Linked DNA regions of Homo sapiens: all the other regions are reported to be linked to region 3. Evidence: microRNA targets listed by miRTarBase, many of them from high-throughput screens and not tested one by one. Region 3 holds a microRNA gene; each other region holds the end of a gene's coding sequence.
Evidence for each region. Region 3 holds the annotated microRNA hsa-miR-6760-3p (ACACUGUCCCCUUCUCCCCAG, at 1,222-1,242, shown strand). A microRNA usually pairs through its seed, bases 2 to 8, with sites in the 3' UTR of a target mRNA and lowers its output. Matches are read on the target gene's strand: a 7mer-m8 pairs with bases 2 to 8, a 7mer-A1 pairs with bases 2 to 7 and ends in A, and an 8mer does both.

Region 1 (4,224 bases), not on the chromosome of region 3:
CTGTACCCGGAAGACTAAATCTTCGCCTGATGCTGGCTTTCTGGCTTTAGCCTAAACATTGCATTTCCCAGTCCATCACTCTGCTTGCACAAAATCCCACAGAGGCTCCGTGGCACCCAGCACTTCTCTTTTGCACTCACAACTACTTACTGTTCTGGACAGTCTTTCTTACTGTAAAGTTCACAGGGCAGGGGCTATGACTTTTTGATTCACTTCAGTTTTCAGAGCCAGACATAAAAGGGCTCACAGTAGAGACTCAAATAAGTGTTGGCTGTGAGTTCATCAGTGGGGGATTAAGAGCCCTGGCAGCTTTCACCTTGTCTGGCCAACCAAGGAAGATCCCTCCTGGGCCTAATTCCTGGGCAGGAGGAGAACTTGGGACTAGGGTGGGTGGGGAGGGTGTTAGGTAAGGGGGAGTATTACAGATTGTGGAGTAAGGATCAGTATGGATAATAAACACATACAGTTGTAGAATGGATTAGCTGAAGATTCCCAGCTGAATTACCTGGTCAGTGAGCCAGACTTCGGGAGCTGCCTGTTTTGCCCAAGATGACAGTAGAAATATTTGGTCTTCTAGGGAACTCCACTTTGGGTCTCATTAGTCTCGTGGTGGAGTGCAGGGTTGGCTCATGTCTGCCAGTGTTTCTGGACACTACATGAGCTGTAGCAGTCAAAGTTTTTCATCCTCTAGTAGTTGAACCACAAGAAACACTTTTCATAAAGCTAGGGGGAGATTCTAGCTAGCCACGAAGAACAATTTGTATCTTGGATTTGTATCTTATCTTAGAGATTCTATCTAGCCATGAAGAACTATTTGTATCTTGGATTTGTATCTTATCTTCCCCTGCTAGACCATGCAACTTGAGAATAGGAATCCATTTCTTACCCTCTGTATTACCAATAAATGGGCCCATCTTAGGTGCGCAATAAATGTGGGTACCCTGGGAGTCAGAAAAGACTAAGTTCAGGCTGCTGGGCAACACTGTGCTGCTGCCCCCTTATAAGGGGCAGGGACAGTGTCATCCAAGAATCCCATCACCTTGATTTAAGGTGCTTTCTCCCACAGCAGCCTCCTGTAACTGTTCATTCCAAAACAGGAACACAACAGAGCCACCTGCAGTACATGAATGTTTTATTCTTCATAAAGTGCTTAAAACATGAAGAACAAGCTCTTTATAAAGAGCCTTAACTAGGAAGACAAACAGCAAAGCAGAACCATGCCTGCTCCCTGCCCAACCCACCTGCAACTTTCCTCCAAGTGTGGCTAGGAGAAGAAACATCAACAAGGACCCTGGGCTTCGATTCAAAAACTCCTCTGAAGCCATCCATGCCCTGGGCATTAGGGAGGCCCACAAAGGTCAGGGCCAGGGCTGGGAGTGAATAAAGCCCAGAGGAATCCCCAGTAGGGGGGGTGACTCCCCCTCTCTCAGAAAAGATACTTACTTCTCTAATACCCAATGACCCCCAAAAGCATGACTGAAACCCTGGGGACCAGTGGATACTTTTCTCAGATTTGATGAGTGGAGTTTAAGGTAGGTAACGTTACAGGGGCTTTCCTCCATGTGTGGCGCTCCTCTGCTCCATCCTGGCAGCAGACAGACATCACCCAGAGGGCACGTGTCTGCCTGAGGCCTTCCAAAAGCAAGCCCACAGGCCCTCTCCTGAAGAAGTGGTGGTCCCAGAGGAGCTCTTGCCTCCTCACTAAGCTGTTAAGTATCCTTCTTCAGCACCTCATCACCCCCCATTTTTGCTAATTCAGGGTGCCCCAAGCTGCCAAAGTTCCCTGCAGATGCCTTGGGGAAGCCTACCATGTTTTCTACAAGCAAACCAGGGGCTGGGCCAAAGGACAGATACTTCATTTCAAAGTGCACTGCAGCCAAGCCAGGCAAGCCCCTGGGGCAGAAGGGACAGGCTGAGATAGCAGCTTAATGGATGGATGGGAGGACAACAAAGGCTTTTTCCTAAGTATAGGTGTCTCCCAAAGGCATAGTGGGACCTCCCTCTTCCAGGCAAGCTGACTGGTCTAGTATGGCTAAGTCCTGAGGCCAGACAATGAGAGTGAGCAGGGCAGCCCCAGGCCTGCCTGCCCGCCTGCCCAGCAGTGTTTATCCTGGGATCCTCCTATTGGGGTTGAGGGAGGGGAAGACAGCAGGAAGGTTGAGGGAGCAGCAACTTGGCCAGACCAAGAGATTAACTTTAGGGGAGGGGAACAGCCCACAGCAGTGCTGTCCATTCCCATTCCCAGGGCCCTGAGAGAGCCATCCCTATGTATTCAACAGGTGGGAGGGGGACGCCACACAGCGGGAGAGGTCGACATCCAGGGGCTCTTGACCCCGCCCACCAAAGGCACATTTTAATTGGTTTCCAAAAGTTCAAACCCTGCAGCAACACAGAGTTTTGGCATCTGGACAGGCAACAAGAATAGACATGGAGGCTTGATCCCCAAATCATAAGCAGTCCCAAGCCCCAGCCTGGAGGGACCTACACATTGGAGGTGGTCAAGAGCTCGAAAAGCAAAAAGGTGCTCTCTCCGCACCCGCCCCTGCGCCCCACACATTCCCATGTGACACTCGTGGAAAGGTCAGAGGGGTCAGGGAGCAGCCTGAAGCACACACATCATCCACCACTGTCCACATGGCACTCGCCCCACAAACAGCTCCAGACTGAAGCAGACTCAGGACATGGCAGAGACTGGCCCAGACCACACAGGCTTCTTGCTCTCAGGGGAATGGGTGTGAGGCTGAAGAGGCTGGTTGCCCGTAACTCACAGACAAACAGGCAGCGTGGTCATTGTCCCAGTAATACTAGAAGCCCCTCCAGGGACTGGAGGGAAATGAAGGGGATGGGGCTTTGGCTGTGGGAAGAAATGGCTGACCATCCTTGGGGGATAATAAAGTATGTGCTAGCAACCAGTCTTGTCCCAGATTACTGCATCAAGCTACAGTTCACCCCTGCTCTGTCTTGGGGGAAGAGTTCCAATTCCCTGGGGCCCCCAAAGCTGAGGGATATGAAAACAGGCAGGTGGGAAAGACCCAGGGCTCCCAAAGACACACAAGTTGTGCACAGAACCTGATGCCTCCAAAGGGAATCCAGAGGGCCCCCTTCCAGCAGCCCCAGTTGAGGCAGGAGGGAGAGGAGCAAGGAGTGACAAGGCAAGACAGACGATGCCCCACTGCAGATGAGAGAGTTCAGGAGGAGAGAGGGCAGGCAGCAATAGGTCCATGCCAACCCTCCTGGGGGTAGGGTGAGGAAGGCTATTTGGGGGGGCCCGGGGGGATCTGCAGCAGCGTGGGTGAGGTCTCCATGATCCGCACCAGCAGCCGGTCGATGTAGCTCTCCAGCTCCTGCACATGCTCGTCCCGCTGGCTCAGCTCCCGCTCCCGCTGCAGGAGCAGGCTGATGAGCTCATCGTGGGTCAGGTGGTAGTACTTGGCCGACTGGTCCAGCACAGCTGAGTCCTGAGGCCGGACCGAAGACAGTGAGCAGGGCAGCCCTAGGCCTGCCTGCCTGCCTGCCCGCTTGCCCGCCCGCCCGCCTGCCCACCAACACCTAAGTTTCACCACCACAGGGCCCCAGGCTGCCTGTCTCCAAAGTCAGAGCCTAACTGGCTTCAGGACTCTGATATGGGGGACCTGGCCTGCTCCCTGCCCCACCCTCACCAGGACCAAGCCCTGAGACTCCACCACACATTCTGTCAGATGGCCCCCACACCCTGCTGGGCCTTACCTTCAGCCTTTTGGTGTCCACCATCTGGCCAGCCTGGGGGGCCTGGGTCACAGGCTGAATGCTCCCAGATGTGACTGTTTTGAGCTTCTCCAGCCCACTGCTCAGGGCTATGCTCAGACTGGAGCGGGACTGCTTCCTGTCGGGGCTGCCCTCCACAGGGGCGGCACTGAGGGGCTTCACGGGGTGGGGACTGCAAAGACATACAAGAGATGGGTTACACAGAGAGAAGGGTGGCACGGGTCAAAGGTGGGGCTGCCTTCCCTGTGGAGCCTCCAGGTCTGCTGGACAGAAAGCCCAGCACTGGGTGGTAGCTGCCCCTACAGAGTCAAGGTTTCAGGGCAGCGGTGTCCAGTACTCCTCAGCAACCCCCTGGGCTGGCCTCAATTCCCACCCCACCACCTGCTCCCTCCCCATTTCACTCCCTCATTCACCGGGTGAACTGACCCTTTCACAGGGACAGCAAAGGCCATGCTACAGACTCCTGTGCACCTGCACCCA
Region 2 (4,239 bases), not on the chromosome of region 3:
GAATAGTATATAGTTATGAAAAAAGAACATCTTCAATGTGGGGGGAGAGGAGGCAAGTCTCAGTGTAGTGCATGTGAAATGGGGTTATGTCCTACTTTATACGGTAGCTGAGGATTAAGAGTTAATCCATGATAAAGCACTTCAAATAGTGCCTGTCACAGCAACCACAGGTGTCAGCTGTTAACACATTATTGATTAAATAAGTATATGCCTAAATCTGGAAGAACAAACGAAATTATCATGACTTCTCGGTAACACTGTGAAAGGAAATATCCTTTTTCATTTTACATTTCTGCACTGTAAAAAATTCAAACCAGCAATGTTTAATAGCTTTCACATTTGTTAACCATAAACACAAATTTATCAAGGTTTAATAGCCACCACCCATGGCATGGTGAATATGTCCCTGGAGTCTACAGAACCAGATTTGAATTTTATCTCTAGGCCACATGCAAGTCACATGATCTCTGAATCTTGCTTTCCTAGTCCACAAATCTAAGTGAGATAGGTACGGTGTCTAAGCCAATGCCTAGCATGCAGATTATTTCAGTACATGTAACCCTCCCTTCAATTTACATGAATATGAGACATATTGCTAAAGATCAAGTACCAACTGGGTATGACTACAGAGAGCTTAACCTCCAAGAAAGCCAGAAGAAAAAACCAGCAAATGCTCAGTGGCTACTGGGCAGATATCAGCAATCTGCATGACCTAAAATGACTGCTCATTTGCTAACCAAACAGATACTCTGGCGATGCCACTGCTTGGCACTGCCATATCACCACTTCATCAGAAGCTAGGCACTCCCCCAAATTTCTATGATTATCTGTGTGGGTAATGAATGTGTGGATGGAATTTAAAAATCACTACATAGTATTTAAAATCAATTTGTCTAGTGGGGACTAAGCCTAACCAGAGATAGAAAGTACACATCTCATCATTTCCTCTTCTTGTGTGCCACCATCCAGTTTTTTTTGGTCCAGTCCCTTTTTCCCACAGAGCTTTGCCTTAGCCTCAGAATCCTTTCTGAACAATGCAGATATTAGAGCTGCCAAGACAAAAACAGTATTTGCCAACCCTCATACTACTTTTTCTACACTCACATTACCAAATATCTTTGGCATTTATGACAAATCTACCACAGGGAAGCTTCCTTGTATATAGGAACCGCATACGATCTTAAAAAGCATGACATAATAGCCATTGAGAGGTTGCTCCCTTCTTACCTACTCTGATACAAGAATTCTGTCATTCCAGCCGTCTTCCAAATATGCCACCTGAAAACCTACTTGGAAAGAAGCCAGTTATAAATAAATAAATCACATCATTTATCTTAGAGCAGAGGAGTTTACAGCTTTATTGGACACTGACTTGTTTCCCCTCAGCCACAAAGAGAAAAAGACCCAAACAAAAGTCCCTACATTTTCTTGTATAACTTAAAATACATTATATCATTACTACATATTTATACTTCAATAAATCTTAATCTATAAAGCACATTTTTTATAATTGTTATCAGAAAACCTATAAACAAGCTCCATTCTGCCTCACTTTTCCACCAGCTGGCCTTGCATTTATTACTATGCTTTTTAATAGGCTCATGCAAAATCTCACCTTCCATTTTTAAACTTGATCCAAGCACCAGATATAACCAAAATCTCTGAACTAGGAAATATTTGTATTCACATGGGTCATTTTCCACACAATGATGCCCATTATAAAAAAGCCTCCTCTCATATTCTATATTTTAACTTCCAGAGTTTTCCACTAAACAGTAGAACCACAGTACTTGGAATTCTCAGCCAAGGAGTATATAATCCTACTACTACAATGTATTACTTTAATACATTTTAAAAAATGTGTTAAGACTGAAAATTAAAAAAAAATTCAATTGTGATAGGTTAATAAACTAGTTAATTGTCTAGTTGTTTATTTTTTAAATAGAACAGTCCATTCAACTTAATATGTAGGTACAACCTCAATGCTATTAGAGATTGATTAGTTCTTTAAAAAGATTCACAAACTTCCAAATTGTGGTAAGAGTATCGTGGACTCACCTCTGAACACTGGAGAGCCAGCTAGCTCTTTTGAGCCGAGTCCTCCTCCCCCTCCAAATACAACACCCTGGTAAAAAAAACTACAGTTCTGGGAACCTCACAGGTGACCTCCCCTGAGGAATGCTCAGACAAGGGGAAGAGGCTAACTCACATAAAACAGCAAACCCCTATGATTTACAGTGGAAGAAATACCTACCTACTTATGGTAGGATTACAGTACCTAGCACAGTGCCTTGTCGGTAGAAAATGTTTAATAATAAATGCATGGCTGCTTTTTTAGCCTGACGTTCAACCCTTTTGTACCAAAGGAATAAAAAATAGGTAACCTGATACTTGCCCACCTGTCAGGGAATTTTCTGTCCTTAACAAAGATGAAGGCAAAATAATGATGAACTCTATCATCTTTTTCTAAAAGCCATGACAGACCATTACCCTTATGTTTACATTTGCCTTCAACACTGCCATCCGCTACAAATTTTTCCCTAGTGTTATAATTTCTACCTTCATTATTTTACAACTGTTTATTATTTAGACTGTATGCTTTTTAATAATATATGGGAAAACATTATTTTCATTAGTAAGATGACTCCAAATTATAGAGAGGATGAGTAGCTTTTGAATTTTCCTGCAGGCAAAATATAAATTCTTGATACATTTCAATTCTTAGATCAAAGTATTTGCATATCTTCCCCAATCAAGGTGTTCCATTCACTTTTTGATGTTTTATCACCATCACTTCTTATCTGAGATCTTATGGTTCATTTTGAGGCTCTTAGCCATCCTTTATCCTCTTATTTTCTCAAATGCATATTCAAATTAGGTAAAAGGAAATAAGGGTAAATTTTTAAAAGATGGTTTAAAATGGTTTTCAGACTTTGTAATTCCTGTTGCCTTTTAATATATAAGGGAATGTATCCATATAAAGAACATTTCAATGATCAATGCAGAAATAATGTATTTGTCTTAAAAAAGAAACTTTCAAGAAAGGGACAATGAATCAGGTAGTTCATTATTTGGAGAAGTAATACAGACTATAAACATCACATGGAAAATTTAGGCATTAAGACCTGAATTAAGTTTAAAATTTCAGTTTCTAGGCAGGTATGACACCATTTCTTTCAAGATAAATATCATAATGGTGAGTGAAGATTTTTACATTTCCCAGTGGATTTTCTGACAGTCAATAGGGAAAAAACTATTCTGCATCATTTCATATTTTAAATTTTGTCTTCATTTCTGAAGAAAAAGACCTGAGTGCTGATTCTTTTTTTTTTTTCAATTTCTTAAACTTTCACAACATTCAGAAGTTTTTCTGCATTGTGTCTTCTCTGATGTCTAAAAAGATTTGAGCTTTGACTATACGATTTCCCACACTGAACGCATTCATAAGGTTTCTCCCCAGTATGGATTCTCTGATGATTAATAAGCCCCGAATTCTGGCTAAAGGCTTTCCCACATTCAAGACATTTGTAAGGTTTTTCTCCAGTGTGGACTCTCTGGTGTTGCACAAGAATGGAACTTCGGCTGAATGCTTTCCCACACTCAACACATCCATAAGGTTTCTCCCCACTGTGAATTCTTTGATGAAGAATAAGGGCTGAGCCCTGACTGAAGTGTTTTCCACATTCATCACATATATGTTGTTTCTTTCGAGAGGGATTTCTCTTTCTTTCAAACCTGCCCTTGGGGAAACAGGTTTCTCCATATTTAAAAATTTGAGGAACACCCATATTGAGAGTGCCAGGAACTTCATGGGATTCTAATGCTGAAGGAAGCTCCTGCTTTGGAGCTAGTGCTCCATTTTCAGTCCTACCATCATCATCTGAAATAAACAGAAAATGTAAATATCATTCATTATCTATTAAGGGAAAAGAAACCTAAAAAAAATTTTTTTTTTAATGAACTAAAATAGCTAGCACACATCTATAAACCACTCTGACACTGGTGTTAAGGCCTATTCTCAAAAAAGAAAAAATGAAATTACTCTGAATAACAGTATAACATCATGATATAAGGGATATCTGAATAAAACATAGGCAAGTGGTTTACAAATGGTAGTCAGAAAACAAAGGTCAGAAAGATGGTAGATTCTAAGATGGTTAGGGAGATAGTCAAAATGATGTGGCTAGGTATGGATGAAACTTTGTAAGAATAAAAATAAAATAAAATTGGCCACTAGGA
Region 3 (4,239 bases):
TCCCAGCACTTTGGGAAGCCAAGGCAAGTGGGTTACTTGAACCCAGGAGTTCAAGACCAGCCTAGCCAACATGGCAAAACCCGTCTCTATTAAAACTACAAAAATTAACCCGTCATGGTAGTGCACACCTGTAATCCCAGTTACTCAGGAGGCTGAGATGGGAGGATCAATTGATCCCGGGAGTTGGAGGTTGCTGTGAGCCCTGATTGCACCACTGCACTCCAGCCTGGGTGACAGAGCGAGACCCTGTCTCGAAAAAAAAAAAAAAAAAAAAAAAAAATCGACCATAGACCCAGTTTAGTGAACTGCTGCATTCTGATTTTAACCACTCAAAACCTCTTTGTGTTAGATGTTTTCATTGCTCCCCATTTCAAAAAGAGAAACTGAGCTGGGCACGATGGCTCACTCCTGTAATCCCAGCACTTTGGGAGGCTGAAGCGGGTGGATCACCTGAGGTCAGGAGTTCAAGACCAGCCTGGCCAACATGGTGAAACCCCACCTCTACTAAAAATACAAAAAATAGCTGGGTGTGGTGGTGTGCACTTGTAATCCCAGCTACTTGGGAGGCTGAGGCAGGAAAATCTCGTGAACCCAGGAGGGGCAGCTTGCAGTGAGCCACGATTGTGCCACTGCACTCCAGCCTGGGTGACAAGAGTGAGACTCCATCTCAAAAAAAAAAAAAAGAAAAGAAAAGAAACTGAGACCCAGGGAGAGGAAGTGACTTGCCCAGGGGCTGCAATAACCTGTGGCCTGGGAAAGCACCTTTGCAGATGCCGTGTCTGGGACTCATTCCATACCAGGTGGCATGAGAGTTGGAACAGCTCTTGCCTTCAGACTAGCCAGGCCTGAAGTTAATGTGGCAGACAGAAGTATCTAGAAATGTGTGAAAACCTGCCAGTCCCACCCAGAGAGCCTCTCTCATCCTGCCTTCATAGAGCAGGAATGTTCTGACTCCTCTGGGGGTCCCAGGCACCCCACGAGAACCCAGAACCTCCTCAGAGGGGCATTTCTTCCTGTCCTCTCAGCTCAGGAGTAACCCCAGAGGCTGCTATTTCTTGTCCCCAGCCCAGACAGGGCTCTGTGACTGGTCTTCATAGCTCCAGGACAGGGTCCGGGACTAGGAAGGCAGGACCTGAGGCCCTCGGAGGTCTGCCTCCCCAACCCCTGCCTGAAACAGTGCAGGGAGAAGGTGGAAGTGCAGAGTGGGCTCACCTCTCGCCCACACTGTCCCCTTCTCCCCAGCGAGCTGAGGCTGCCCAGCGGGAGGTGGAAAGTCTCCGGGAACAGCTGGCCTCTGTCAACAGCTCCATCCGCCTGGCTTGCTGCTCTCCCCAGGGGCCCAGTGGGGTAAGGATGGGGTTGGGGAAGTGAGCAGGGAGGGCAGAGGGAAAGATCGGGAATGGCTGAGTTTGCAGGTTTCAGCATGTGGGTGACACTTTGTGGTTGATTGTGTGCATCCATTTGAAACTGGGAGTGTGAATGTGTGTGGGTCTCTGTGCATACGGTGAGCATAATCACTATGACCTGCTACACCAGCTGAGGATAAAAATACAGCTACAGTTCTTTACTTTTCAAGCCCACGTTTCCATATACCCTTTATTACCAGGAGTTCCAGTATCTTCCTTTGGAGGCCTCCCTTATCCCCAATTATCCAAGAATGCCAGGAACTTCCTCAGACCAAAGATCATTCTGATTTCCAGATGCACCAGCAAAGACATGGGGGAGAGGGAGTTTGAGGCAATACAGCAGCATGCAGTTTTGGTGGCTGCCACCAGGTGTCGCTGTTGAACACCGGTCATAGCAGCTTTGTGCATGCTTGGGATGGTGATGCCCCTGCTGGTTTTCAGTCCCAAAACTGGGTACTTTTAGGAGTGTGAGCCAGCCAACATATCAACAGGCAGTCATCACCAGGACTGCAGTGGGGCCACATACCAAGATAAAATTTAACATTCATACTCAGCCATTGGTTTCCAAAGCATGCCAGGTGATTCTAGGGGGATTTCCCACCCCAGCCACATGCTATGAAGAGCCAGTCTTCGGTGATCAACCCTGAGGTTCTTGTGTTAGGCCTGATTAATCAATTCATCTTTCTCTTTCCTCCTGGTTTGTGCCTCTTTGGGGTCCTAGTGTCATTTCTTGACAAGAGACTTTCATCAAGGCCACCCCAACCTACCCTTCTGTCCTATATTAGCAGTCTCCATCCTGGCTCTCCCAGAGAGCCTTGGGTTCATTATGTGAATTGGTCTGCCTTATTTCCAGATCTCTACATACCAAGGGGTGAGATTCATGATTCCTTACATAATAACAGGTCTGCTCCAGGGTGACTTCCCTCTCCACCCATGAACCTGAACTTGCGAGCATAATTTTCACTTCACCTGACACCCACATATACAGGCCCAGGTGTCTATGTCTCTCTTTCTGTTTGAATATTGGAATGAGTCTCTATGAATGTGTTACTGTGTATGTGTGTCTCTACTTGTGACCTTTGGGCAACTGACTGTATTCTTAACCTGACTGTGCCTCAGTTTCCTCATCTGTACAATTAACATCTACTTTATAGGGTTATTAAAAGGATTACATGAGTCAGGCATGGTGGCACATGCCTGTAGTCCCAGCCTCTTAGGAGGCTGAGGCAGGAGGATCACTTGAGCCCAGGAGTTTGAGTCCAGCCTGGGCAATACAGCAAGATCCTGTCTCTGAAAAAAAAAATGGATTATGTGTAAAGTGCCTAAAATGGTGCTTGGGTCATTGTATATGCTCACTAAGTACTTGATGCTACTGTTATAATTGTTAATGTGTCTTTGGTGTGTCTGGGGTGTTTTTGCTCATGAGAGCATGTGGCTTCTTTGAGCACGCGCATGTCTGTTGTGTGTGATGATGTGTCCTTGTGAGTGTCTCTCTTTGATGCGTGTGTATTTGTGTGTGTGTGTCAGCATATTTGGGAAACTGCATGTGTTAGTGTGTGCTGTGGCTATAGGTGTGTCCTTGTGTGTCAGCCTGTGTCTGTGTCCCAGGAGATTCTGTGTGTGTCCATGTTCCTGGGTGACGGCATAACACAGAGAGAGTGAACACAGGAGAGAGAGGCTGTGTGGAGAGAGATGGAGAGTGAGAGCCCATGAGGATGCCTCGTAGAGGAATTTGCCAATGGTTCTTAATTAACCCCCGTGGAACCCGGCAAATGCCTGTGCTAATCAGCCCCAGGGAACTTTGCTGGTTTGGGGGGTGTGCTTTTCTGAGCACAACAGTGGCACTCGATGCTAATTAATTTAATGTATTAATGGCATCCGCTTCCTGTTTTAATTGGCATTTATCTCCATGGAAGAAAGCTGGGGTTGGGTTGGGGCTTTTTGTTTGTTTGGTTTTTTTTTTTTTTTAATGTTTCTTAGATTTATTTGTAACTAAGCCTGACATCAGCCTGACTTCAGGTTCCTCAAACAGCAACCTCTCCATCTTCATCCAGGACAGAGGGTCCATTTCCTAAAATGTGGAGAAGCCATGGGTCTTGGGGCTATCAGCAAATTAGGCGGAGGAAAGAGCCGCCCATAACGTGGTCCGTGGCTCCAAGGTGTCAAGTCTAATCCTGAGGGTCCCTTATTGCCTAGAATGGGGACATCCCCCTGGAGTAGGAGCCAGACCTGAGAAAGAAACTCAAACTTTTACCTATGCTGTTTCCTCTGGTGCGAGCACCCAATCCCCAACCTCAGCTGACTCCTTCCTTTTGTCATGGCTATTCTTTTTTAATAAATCTTTTAATCAAAGTGTAACTTAATACATAAGGAAAAGTGTACAAGTCATAAGTATACAACACTTTGAATTTTTCAACACAAGCACACCCCATACCATCATCCAGATCAACAAATTTGCATTCTGCTTGGGATTCAGGGGTGGGGAGGCCAGACCTGTGGACCCCCATCCCTCACCTCTCAGCCCCTCAAAGACCCCTTTGCCTGCAGGATAAGGTGAACTTCACTCTGTGCTCGGGCCCTCGGCTGGAGGCCGCGCTGGCCTCCAAGGACAGGGAGATCCTGCGGCTGCTGAAGGACGTGCAGCACCTCCAGAGCTCACTGCAGGAGCTGGAGGAGGCATCCGCCAACCAGATCGCCGACCTGGAGCGGCAGCTCACGGCCAAGTCCGAGGCCATAGAAGTGGGTCCTGGGGAGGAGGCAGGCGGGCAGGCGGCCCCATGCAGAAGCACACAGACCAGCCTCACCATCTTTCTTTGCTCTTCTAGAAGCTGGA

Region 1: miRTarBase lists RAB11FIP5 as a target of hsa-miR-6760-3p. Seed matches in the 3' UTR shown: 7mer-m8 at 2,625-2,631.
Region 2: miRTarBase lists ZNF24 as a target of hsa-miR-6760-3p. The part of its 3' UTR that is shown has no 7-base or 8-base seed match.

The regions. Positions count from the first base shown.
Region 1 is chr2:73,072,267-73,076,490 of GRCh38, forward strand. It overlaps RAB11FIP5 (RAB11 family interacting protein 5), which reads right to left. Exons shown (of 6, transcript NM_001371272.1): 5 at 3,727-3,916; 6 at 1,116-3,458. The coding sequence ends at 3,255. Among named protein-coding and RNA genes, the nearest start is that of SFXN5, 2.7 kb to the left of the region's middle. RefSeq lists an enhancer at 1-44.
Region 2 is chr18:35,333,891-35,338,129 of GRCh38, forward strand. ZNF24 (zinc finger protein 24) reads right to left here. Exons shown (of 4, transcript NM_006965.4): 4 at 1-3,880. The coding sequence ends at 3,342. Among named protein-coding and RNA genes, the nearest start is that of ZNF24, 8.4 kb to the right of the region's middle.
Region 3 is chr12:111,302,968-111,307,206 of GRCh38, forward strand. It overlaps MIR6760 (microRNA 6760), which reads left to right and starts at 1,175; the gene lies at 1,175-1,242. It overlaps CUX2 (cut like homeobox 2), which reads left to right. Exons shown (of 22, transcript NM_015267.4): 10 at 1,243-1,347; 11 at 3,954-4,145; 12 at 4,232-4,239. All of the region lies in intron 2 of LOC105369983 (a long non-coding RNA gene), which reads right to left.